3 linked regions of the Homo sapiens genome follow. The protein of the gene in region 1 purifies or fractionates together with the protein of each later gene. This does not show direct contact. Each region holds a gene or a part of one and is shown on either strand. Other genes may lie near its edges. The genes, in order: IL4I1, CAP1 and GLG1.

Region 1 (4,443 bases):
CAAAAAAAAAAAAAAAAAAAAAAAAAAGAAGGGAGTTGAGAGATGACCCATATGTGTAGAAGCCCCTGGGCTGGCCCATTCTCATTCTCGGATTTCAGTGAGTAGGTCAGTGGTTAGACCTCATGGCACACATCCCCTTGGTAGAATTTCCATCTCCACCAACAGGCGCCCCACCCCATGGAGGGGACTGAAGGGATGCCAGAGAGAAGAAAAGCCGGGCCGGGGCGAGCTTAGGAGGAGGACAGAGAAGTCAGGGCGGGAGGAGGGTGCAGGCGGTACCCACCTGGTTGAGAGCCATCTGGTAGATGTCTTCGGGCGAGTGGCCCTTTTCCTGGGGACGCAAGGCGTAGCCCAGCTTCTCGGGCACCTTCTCCACCACATAGTTGCGCAGCTTCACTTCGTGCACCTCCGTCCACGTGTTCTTGTCGTACTGGGTGAACTTGGTCAGGTTGAGCCCCAGGCCCTGGCAGAGCTTGTGGAGGATCCTGATCAGGGGAGTGGGTGAGTGAGGGCCGGGCTCCAGTGGGGGTGGCCTGGTCCCTAGTGGGACTTGGAGAAGAGGGGTGGGAGGGGAGAGTAGCTGGGGACCAGCATGAGGCTGGGGGTGGGGCTAGATTTGGGGTAATCAATGCTGGGGGATGGGAATGAAATGGGGACAAGGCTGGAGGCCTCAGGGCAGTACCAGGATTAGGATTGGGTTAAGAGTGGGATAGAGCCCAGATTAGAATTGGGAAGGGGGACAGAGTTTGGGTTGGACGGGGGTTTGAGATGAAGAAGGGGCCTGGGGCTGGGGTGCCTGAGGGTGTGGGGATGGTGGAGCTGCAGGCCTGGAGGGGCCAGCACAGGAGCTGGCTTTTGCACCAGGCAGGGCCAGCTGGAGGTCTGGTTGGACCAGGTGGCCCGAGTGTTGCCAGAGGCCCAGGGCTGGCGCTGGAGGCAAGACTGAGGTGAGGATTAGGCGAAGGATGGGGTTGGAGGCTGGGTTTGGGAGTCAGAGTGGAAGTTCGGGCCCACTCTGGTGTGGGCATGGAGCTGGGGGGCTAGTTGAGTCTAGGCACACAGGTGGGTGGGTTGCTAGGTCACCTGTGAGAGCTGGGCATGCGCATGGCTCCCAGCTCCCCAATCCAGCCCGTGTTCTGGTCCCGGTAGGTGAAGATGCGGCCCCCGATCCTGTTATCTGCCTCCAGGATGGTGACCTGAGGGAGTCCGTGGGGCGAGGAGGGCCCTTCAGCTCCACCCACTGACCATCCCCTGCCCTCTACCACCCCGTGCCAGCCCCCTGCCTTCTTCCATCCCCACAGTGGCCCAGACCCAGACTAGGAGAGGGTCCCCTTCTGTATGGAGGTGGGGGAACAGAACTGAGTGAGCAGTTCCAGACTGCAGGAGGAAGGCTGCCAGCTAGACTGCAAAGGGACTTCCCAGCTCGGGGAGTTCGGAGATGACCCATATGCGTAGAAGCCCCTGGGCTGGCCCATTCTCATTCTCGGATTGCAGTGAGTAGGTCAGTGGTTAGACCTCAGGGCACACATCCCCTTGGTAGAGTTTCCCTCTCCACCAACAGGCGCCCCACCCCAGGACAGAGGAGCTTTGAGCCAGTGAGACTTCCCTCTGGGATGAAAAACGTGGGACAGGAAAGTCTGGGGCCTCTCAGTGGAGACATGTGACAGCAGGGGGCTTGGGCCTCACCCCCAGACTACAGGGAAAGATAGCCTCTCCCCCCACATCCCCACCTCCACCCCCTCAAGGAGGAACGCGGCCGTGTCCCTGTGCCCAGGGACTCCAGCCTGCAGCAGGAGGGACTCCAGGTAGACTGCAAGCAGTGCTTCCCACCTTGTGTCCAGCATCGCTGAGCACCTTGGCGGCCACCAGCCCGGCCACACCAGCGCCAACCACAATCACCCTCTGGGGCTTCAGGGTCCGATTGAGCCCCCAGGTCACCACCTTGAGCAGCTGCTCATAGTCAGGATCCTGCATGCATTTCTCGAAGGGGTCTTGGCTGCGTTCAGCCTTCCAGTCCTGGGAGGCCACCAGGCTGAGGAGGATGGGGACGAGGACGAGGAGGTGCAGGGCTGGGAGGAGGAGGACAGGGTCAACGGGGTTGTGGCAGGTCGGGGGAGAGGGGTTCTACTCACTTGTTCCAGAGCCCCTCCCCTGCTTACTCACCCAATGGGGCCATGACTCTCGGTGGGAGATGGTGTCTGGGGTGGAGGAGAAGGGAGGGCTGTTGTGACTGAGGCCTGTGACCACTGTAGCCTGACTCTGTCTCCCATGGGCTGCCCAGCTGCTAGAGCCGGCCCTCCCCCAGTCACTGTCCTGCTCTCTGGACCTGTGTCCCCTAACCCCATTCCTTCAGAGTCCCCTGGACCGTCCCTGCCTCCCTCCTCACCGGTCTCCACCTCTGCCACAGCTCTCTCGGGTTCCTGTCTCTTTCTCTTCTTTTCCCTCTTTCTTTCCTTTCTTTCTTTTTTTTTTAACAGTCTTTCTCTGCCATCCAGGCTGGAGTGCAGTGGTAAGATCTTGGCTCACTGCAACCTCCGCCTCCCAGGTTCAAGAATCCTCCCACTTCAGCCTCCCAAGTAACTGGGATTACAGACACCCATAACCAAACCTGGCTAATTTTTGTATTTTTAGTAGAGACGGGGTTTCGCCATGTTGGCCAGGCTGGTCTCGAACTCCTGACCTTAGGTGATCCACCCACCTCGGCCTCCCAAAGTGCTGGGATTCCAGGCATGAGCCCCCGCGCCCGGCCTCTTTTCCCTCTTCCTCATCTCCCCAGCTCCTGACTGCTTCTCAGTCCCTATTTCTGTGGGTCCTGTCTCTCTGTCCCCCCACCACTGGCCGTGTCACTACCTCCAGCTCTTGGTGACAGCAGGACAGCGCGGTCCTCTCCACTGCCCTCCACTGTCTCTGCTGTGGCCCTTTCTCTCCCCTTAAACTGGCAGAGCCCCGCCCACCCCTCCTTTTGGGAAACTGGCCGAGGGAAATGAAACTGGTTTCCTGGAGCTGCTCTGGTCCAATGCTCAGAGTCTAGTTGAGGTTGGAGAAAGGGGGTTGGAGGAAGTTAATCAGTCTATTCACTTCCTTTTGCCCCAGATAGTTCTGGGGTGGTTTGGAGGCCAGAAATAGATGCTCAGGTAACCGTGCCAACAACGGGGAATCCCCTTCGGTTTGCCCCCGTCCCTGATCACCAGGCCACTTGTTTCTATCCTCCCCTGCACTCTCTCTGCCTCCTTGATTCCCACGGGGACAGAGGGGCTACAGGTCCCTGGGCCAGGCCAACTTTCCCCTCCAAGTCCCTCTCCGTCAGGTGTCGCCATGTCCTGCAGGGCCCCCCATGGTTCCACTTCCCTCTCCACTTGCCACCCAGAGCCTCAGTCTCCCCCTCCGTTACATGGGTGTAGCAGTGGGGCTGGCAGCCGTGGTCCCGGGGTCAGGACGTGGGCTCTGAGCCCGCCCTCCCCTCTGTGGCTCTCGTCTACAGCTGTCAAATGACGTCTACAGACGTCACAGTGTTTTAGGATCAAGTGAGTGAATCCAGGTTAAGTTCTGTGGCCGGAACCTGGGGTAGTACTGGAAGCTGCTCCTTTGGAAATGCCAGCTGCTGTGGCCGCAGGGGCACTCAGGGGTTCTATGAGTGACCACCCGGCAGAGGGAAGCGCCCAGGCTTCACCCATCCCTGCTTTAAGAACCACCTCAGTGCTCAGGGCAGGGAGTGGGGCGGCACCTTGGAGTGGGTGGGGGTGGAGAAACAATAGCAGGGACTTTCCTTGGGGTGGGGGAGAGGGAGCCAGGGGCTCCGTGAGGAGGAAAACCAGAGGGAGGCAGATTCTCTGCAGCAAGGGTTGGGTGGGGGTTGGAGGGCATTAACAAGAAGGAAGATGGGAAACTCCCGCAGTAAATCAAAGAGGGATGCGGTTATGGCCGGGAGGGGCTGGGGGGTGAATGTGAGTAACAAGGCATGTGACGCAGGGGCGGGAGGCCGTGGCAAAGGGAAATGATCAAAGAGCTGGAGAGTTCAGGGACCGAAAGAGCTTGGGTCAGCAAAAATAGTGACGAGGGCCAGGGGTGGCTCACGCCTATAATCCCAGCACTTTGGGAGGTCGAGGCAGGCGGATCACCTGATGTCAGGAGTTCAAGACCAGCCTGGCCAACATGGCAAAACCTCGTCTCTACTAAAAATATAAAAATTAGCCGGGCATGGTGGCATACGCCTGTAGTCCCAACTACTCAGGAGGCTGGGACAGGAGAATTGCTTGAACCCAAGAGGTGGAGGTTGCAGTGAGCTGAGATCGTGCCACTGCACTCTAGCCTGGGTGACAGAGCCAGACTCCATCTCAAAAAATAAAAAATAAAAATAAAAAATAGTAATGAGGGCCGGGTGCGGAGGCTCACTGCTGTAATCCTAGCACTTTGGGAGGCCGAGGTGGGAGGATTGCTTGAGCC
Region 2 (3,646 bases), on another chromosome or scaffold:
TCACTTGAGATCAGGAGTTCAAGACCATCCTAGCCAACATGGTGAAACACCATCACTACTAAAAATACAAAAATTAGCTGGGCGTGGTTGTGCATGCCTGTAGTCCCAGCTACTTGGGAGGCTGAGGCAGGAGACTCGCTTGAACCCGGGAGGCGGAGGTTGCAGTGAGCTGAGATTGCACTGCTGCACTCCAGCCTGGGTGATAGTGAGACTCTGTCTCAAAAAAAAAAGAAAAGAAAAAAGAAATTTCTCGCTTTTTCCAGAAATACTTCCTCAATTGGGTAGGCATAATTGATATCTCAGAGAAGTTTAAATAAAATGGTAGCAGCAAAAGTACTTTGTAGAATACAGCCTGATGTGCAAACCAAAAGTGGTGATATTGTTAAGATTCAGTGAGTATATTTTTGCTTTGGAGTTTAGCTATTGAGTCTGTAAAATGTTTTGTTTCCAACCTAGGGATGATCTTTTATTCTCACCCTTTTTCCTGGTTGCAGTTATTTTTTTAGCTTTTAAAAAGTGACTTTCTTGAGGCTGAGTTAGAGACTAGCCTGGTCAACATAGTGAGACCCCTGTCTCTACCAGAAAAAAAAAAGGTGACTTCCTCCTTTCAGTTTTTTGTGAAGCATTGTGAATCAAATTTTTTTTTACTTAAGCAAATGCAATGTGTCACTGGAAGCCGAACCTCTGGTTTGAAATTTAATGCTGAGATTTGAAATATGAGAGTTCTCGAGCGGTATCTTACCCAATTTTAGTGATTATTACTTTGAAATGTTGACATCAGTTTCTTTCTTTATTTGTGCTAACCTGGCTTTCATGACCTATACTTCAGTTTCTCTATGACAACCAGACAAATCTTTTTAAAGTTCTCTAAGAAGAAGCATTTTTCATCTTGTTAGTCTTCACTGACTTCATATTTACAAAGAATAAATTCTGAACTCTTTTTTCCATCTTACAGAATTCTCTACAGTTTAGACCCTTATCTTAATTTTTATTAGATGATACAGGTTGACTTTCTAATTTAGAAAGTCGTGAACTAGCATTTTACTTAACCTTTTGCACCTCCCTATGCTCCTTATTAAATTAGAACAGGGTTTCTCAACGTTGGCACAATTGACATTTTGGGCCATATAATTCTTTTTTTTTTTTTTTTTTTTTTTTTTGAGACAGAGTCTCTATCTGTCACCCAGGCTGGAGTGCAGTGGCACAATCTCGGCTCACTGCAAGCTCAGCCTCCCGGGTTCACGCCATTCACCTGCTTCAGCCTCCCGAGTAGCTGGGACTACAGGCGCCCGCCACCAGGCCCAGCTAATTTTTTGTATTTTTAGTATAGACGGGGTTTCACTGTGGTCTTGATCTCCTGATCTCGTGATCTGCTCGCCTCGGCCTCCCAAGGTGCTGGGATTACAGGTGTGAGCCACCGCGCCTGGCCATATAATTCTTTATTATGGAGTTGTCCTGTGCACTGTGGGATGTTAAGCAGCATCTGTCTCTACCCAGTAGATGCCAATAAGACTTCCTCAGTTGTGACAACCAAAAATGTCTTCAGACATTGCCATATGTCTCCTGGAGGACAAAATTGCCCCTGGTTGAGAATTGCTGCGTTAGAAAGTATCGTAGCTATGATTGTACAATGTCCCCAACTAAATTCTGTGAGGGCAGGCCCCATAGCCATACTTAGCACAGTCGATGGTACATGATAAGCACTCAGTATCCTACAATGAATGAATCATTTGTTTCTGTTGAAGCTTCAAGAAATTACTGTTCCTTCAAGGAATTTCTGGGTGGGCAGGTTGGAGTACAATGGTGCAATCATGGCTGATTGCAACCTCCAACTTTTGGGCTCAAGTAATCTTCTCGCTTCAGCCTCCTGAGTAGCTGGGACTACAGTTCTTTTTCTTTCTTTTGTTTTTTGTTTTTTTGAGATGGAGTTTTGCTCGGTCGCCCAGGCTGGAGTGCAGTGGCGTGATCTTGGCTCACTGCAACCTCCCCCTCCCGGGTTCAAGCAGTTCTCCTGCCTCAGCCTCCTGAGTAGCTGGGACTAGAGGCACACACCACCACACTCAGCTAATTTTTGTATTTTTAGTAGGGACAGGGTTTTGCCATGTTGGCCAGGCTGGTCTCGAACTCCTCAAGGGAACCACCCACCTCAGCCTCTCAAAGTGCTGGGATTACAGGCATGAGCCACCATGCGCTCGGCCAAATGTTTGATTTTTTTCAGAGACAGGGTCTTGCTATGTTGCCTGGGCTGGTCTTAAACCCCTGGCCTCAGGTGATTCTCTGGCCTCAGTCTCCTGAGTCACTGGGATTACAGGCATGAGCCACCACACCTGGCAGATGTGATCTTAAGAGAAGTGCCATTGGTTTGAGTACTAGAAGCAAGCTTCTTGTTGATGGTGTAAGTCAGCAGATTTCCCTCTCTATTGAAAATTGTGTGAATTCCTGTTTTGTTTGTGTTCCTTGTATTTAGAGTGCTTGGTTTTAGTGGACAGGGACTATCATTTATTTTAAAGTTGCATATAGGCTGGGCGTGGTGATTCACGCCTGTAATCCCAGCATTTTGGGAGGCCAAGGCGGGTGGATCACCTGAGGTCAGGAGTTCGAGACCAGCCTGGCCAACATGGTAAAACCCCGTCCCTACTAAAATTACAAAAATTTGCTGGGTGTGGTGGCATGTACCGTAATCCCAACTACTAGGGAGGCTGAGGCAGGAGAATCACTTGAACCCGGGGAGGTGGAGGTTGCAGTGAGCTAAGATCGTGCCACTGCATGATCTGCGCCAGCTTGGGTGACAGAGCAAGACTCCGTCTCAAAAAAACAAAACAAAACAAAAAAAAACAAACAAACACTAAAGTTGCATATAGTTTATGGAGTTATTCACATTTATTTTAGTTGATAAAATTATACAGTCATGTGTTGCTTAATGACAGGTACATTCTGAGAAATTTGTCATTAGGTGATTTCATCATTGTGGGAACATCATAGAGTGTACTTGCACAAATTTAGATGATACTGCACATGGTGTAACTTATTACTCCTGGGCTACAAACCTGTATAGTATGTTACTGTATCTAATACTGTAGGCAGTTTGTAACACAGTGTAAGTATTTGTTTATTTAAACTTTTTTTTTTTTTTTTTGAGACGGAGTCTCACTCTGTCGCCCAGGCTGGAGTGCAGTGGCACGATCTTGGCTCACTGCAACCCCCGCCTCCTGGGTTCAAGCAATTCTTCTGCCTCAGCCTCCTGAGTAGCTGGTACTACAGGTGCGCACCACCACGCCCAGCTAATTTTTGTATTTTTAGTAGAGATGGGGTTTAACTATATTGGCCAGGCTGGTCTCAAACTCCTGACCTTGTGTTCTGCTAGCCTTGGCCTCCCAAAGTGCTGGGATTACAGGCATGAGCCATCGCGCCCGGCCACATTTTTAAAGTACAGTAAAAATAGGGTATTATAATCTTATGGGATTTTGTGTTGATTAATCCCCATATAATCCCATATAATCTTATGGGACCACTGTTGATTTTGTGGTCCATCCATTGACCAAAATGTCATTATGTAATGCATGACTGTAGTTTCATAATTTTAAATTAATGCAGCTACAGCATTCACCATGAAATTATTTCTTGATGTACTATATGTTAACCTGAT
Region 3 (3,646 bases), on another chromosome or scaffold:
AACCGAGTATGGTTACTACTAAGGAGGAGATACTCAGGAGGCTGAGGTGGGATGATCACTCGTGCTCGGGAGGCAGAGGCTGCAGTGAATCATGATCATGCCACTGCACTGCAGCCTGGGCAAGAGAGTGAGACCTCGTCTCAAACAAACAAAAAAAAAACCCAAAACAAAACTCACCAGGCACAGTGGCTCACGCCTGTAATCCCAGCACTTTGGGAGGCCGAGGCGGGAGGATCACCAGGTCAAGAGATCAAGACCAGCATGTCCAACATGGCGAAACCCCGTCTCTAGTAAAAATACAAAAATTACCTGGGCGTGGTGGGGTGCGCCTATAGTCCCAGCTACTCAGGAGGCTGAGGCAGGAGAATCGCTTGAACCAGGGAGGCTGAGGTTGCAGTGAGCTGACATCATGCCACTGCCCTCCAGCCTGGATGACAGAGTGAGACTCCATCTCAAAAAAAAAAAAAAAGAAAGAAAAAAGAAAAAAAAAGCTCCGGTGATAGATGGTGGTGCAAGCAGATCACCTGAGGTCAGGAGTTCAAGACCAGCATAGCCAACATGGCGAAATCCTGCCTCTACTAAAAAAACAAAAATTAGCCGGGCGCAGTGGCTCACGCCTGTAATCCCAACACTTTGGGAGGCCGAAGCTGGCGGATAACGAGGTCAGGAGATTGAGACCATCCTGACTAACACAGTGAAATCCCATCTCTACTAAAAAATACAAAAAATTAGCCGGGCATGGTGGCGGGCGCCTGTAGTCCCAGCTACTCGGGAGGCTGAAGCAGGAGAATGGCGTGAACCCGGGAGGTGGAGCTTGCAGTGAGCTGAGATCGCACCACTGCACTCCAGCCTGGGTGACAAAGTGAGACTGCCTCAAAAAAAAAAAAAAAAAAGCTGGACATGGTGGTGTGTACCTGTAGTCCTAGCTACTCATGAGGCTGAGGCAGGAGAATCGCTTGAACCCGGGAGCCAGAGATTACAGTGAGCTGAGATCACACCACTGCACTCCAGCCTGGGCGTCAAGAGCAAGACTCTGTCTCGAAAACAAAATCAAACAAACAAAATCAATAAGAATGATAATAATAAAACATCTCTCATAAGATTAAATGAGATAACGCCTAGAAAGCATCCAGTCCCTCAGAACAGGGCACACAGAAAACCCTCAGTAAATGCTAACCATTATAAGTAGCAGTAGTATACTTGAACACTGAGCAGTGTCTTGCACACAGGTTTCAATAAATGTTTGCTGAAAGAAGAAAAATTGGTCGGGCGCGGTGGCTCACGCCTGTAATCCCAGCACTTTGGGAGGCCAAGGCGGGCGGATCACGAGGTCAAGAGATCAAGACCATCCTGGCCAACATGGTGAAACCCCGTCTCTACTAAAAATACAAAAAATTAGCCGGGCGTGGTGGCGGGCGCCTGTAGTCCCAGCTACTCGGGAGGCTGAGGAAGGAGAATCACTTGAACCCAGGAGGTGGAGGTTGCAGTGAGCCGAGATCGCGCCACTGCACTCTAGCTTGGTGACAGAATGAGACTCCATCTCAAAAAAAAAAAGAAAAAAGAAAGAAGAAAAATTAATTTACATGATAGCCTATAAGCCATTTTAACTGCTGCTTTTAAAAATATATAAATAAGGCCGGGCGCGGTGGCTCACGTCTGTAATCCCAACACTTTGGGAGACTGAGGTGGGTGGATTGCCTGAGGTCAGGAGTTTGAGACCACCCTGGTCAACATGGTGAAACCTCGTCTCTACAAAAATTAGCCGGGTGTGCTGGCAAGTGCCTATAATCCCAGCTACTCGGGAGGCTGAGGCAGGAGAATGGCTTGAACCCGAGAGGTGGAGGTTGCAGTGAGTCGAGATCATTCCACTTCACTCCAGCCTGAGCAAGAGCGAAACTCCACCTCAAAACAACAACAACAAATATATAAATATATATATATATAACTTATATAAAGAGGAGATTTTTGTTATTGTTCCTGAGTAAATTTGTTTTGAACACATTAGGAGAAATGCACAAAAGAGAAATACAGCATTTCATCTTTTGGACTGTTCAAGTATTTTATTTCCTTCTACAGAACAATGAATTATTAAGCAACTATATACTGTAAAGCATTCTCATCAAGAGATTTCTTAAAAAGTATTTGCCATAAACGACAATGCTACTTTACAGGTAATTCTCAATTATCTGCTGTAATATTTTTATCTGAGGTAGGGATAAAAACATCCCATTTCTGGACTTTACTTGGAGAACCAGCTAGAGGTGAATATACGACCCTTCATGACCTGGACTGAAAACATTTTCAAGTTCTCTATTTCGGTCAATACAGCCCCTTTAATAATTCCCCAAAGCATCTCCCCTTTCCACCTGTGCTACGACTCTCTTGCACACGTTTTGTATTCCCACAGATCACAAAATCACAAAGCACCGGAGCTGGAAGAATCTTAAGAGATAATCCAAGGCCAGGAGCGGTGGCTCACGCCTGTAATCCCACCACTTTGGGAGGCCAAGGCGGGTGGGATTACCTGAGGTCAGGAGTTCAAGACCAGCCTGGCCAACATGGTGAAAACCCGTCTCTACTAAAAATACAAAAATTAGCCAAGCCTCGGCCGGACACAGTGGCTCACGCCTGTCATCTCAGCACTTTCGGAGGCCGAGGTGGGCAGATCACGAGGTCAGGAGATCGAGACCATCCTGGCCAACATGGTGAAACCCCGTCTCTACTAAAAATGCAAAAAATTAGCCGGGCATGGTGGTGGGCGCCTGTAGTCCCAGCTACTCGGGAGGCTGAGGCAGGAGAATGGCGTGAACCCGGGAGGTAGAGCTTGCAGTGAGCCGAGATCGCGCCACTGCACTCCAGCCTGGGTGACAGAGCTAGACTCTGTCTCAAAAAAAAAACAAAAAAAAAATTAGCCAGGCATGGTGGCTGGTGCCTGTAATCCCTGCTACTAGAGAGGTGGAGCCAGGAGAATCGCTTGAATACAGGAGACAAAGGTTGCAGTGAGGTGAGATCGCGCCACTGCACTCCAGCCTGGGTGACAGTGCGAGACTCCGTCTTAACCAAAAGCAAAACAAAACAAAAAAACAACAGAGAAAGATAATCCAGTGTTAGTGCTTTCTGAAGCATGTGCTATTGGTAATATGCAAGATGATTTCAGGTGGTATGTGTTGGTACTTATATTTTATAGTCATATATTTAGTTTCATATATATTAGAGAAGTATACCTACCACATCAAATTCATGAGTTCACGTATATTTCCGCTTAGAACAAGGCTAAGTGGTGTTGTGTACCTATAGTCCCAGCTACTCGGGAGGCTGAAGTGGGAGGAGAGCTTGAGCCCAGGAGTTTGAGGTTGCAGTGAGCCATGATCATGCCACTGCACTCCAGCCAGCCTGGGAGATAGAGTAAGACTTTCAAAGAAAAAAAAGAACAAGGACAAAGCTAAAGTAGACAGTCCTTGCTTAAGAAAAGAGGCCGGGTGCACTGGTTTACACCTGTAATCCTAGCACTTTGGGAGGCCAAGACAGGCAGATCACTTGAGGTCAGAGGTTCAAGACCAGCCTGGCCAGTGTGGCGAAACCCCCGTTTTACTAAAAATACAAAAATTAGCCGGGTGTGGTAGCGCATGTCTGCAGTCCCAGCTAC

What was found.
Region 2: the proteins of IL4I1 (region 1) and CAP1 purify together in Homo sapiens (affinity purification with mass spectrometry, with the first as the bait; one large-scale study listed by BioGRID). This does not show direct contact.
Region 3: the proteins of IL4I1 (region 1) and GLG1 purify together in Homo sapiens (affinity purification with mass spectrometry, with the first as the bait; one large-scale study listed by BioGRID). This does not show direct contact.

What each region holds. Positions count from the first base shown.
Region 1 is NC_000019.10:49,893,985-49,898,427, forward strand, and holds the start of IL4I1 (L-amino-acid oxidase isoform 1 precursor), read right to left. Parts: upstream 2,904-4,443; 5' UTR 2,851-2,903; intron 2,199-2,850; 5' UTR 2,177-2,198; coding exon 2,164-2,176; intron 2,070-2,163; coding exon 1,831-2,069; intron 1,197-1,830; coding exon 1,084-1,196; intron 486-1,083; coding exon 284-485; intron 1-283.
Region 2 is NC_000001.11:40,043,655-40,047,300, forward strand, and holds part of CAP1 (adenylyl cyclase-associated protein 1), read left to right. Parts: intron 1-3,646. UniProt on the Homo sapiens protein: Directly regulates filament dynamics and has been implicated in a number of complex developmental and morphological processes, including mRNA localization and the establishment of cell polarity.
Region 3 is NC_000016.10:74,596,977-74,600,622, forward strand, and holds part of GLG1 (Golgi apparatus protein 1 isoform 3 precursor), read right to left. Parts: intron 1-3,646. UniProt on the Homo sapiens protein: Binds fibroblast growth factor and E-selectin (cell-adhesion lectin on endothelial cells mediating the binding of neutrophils).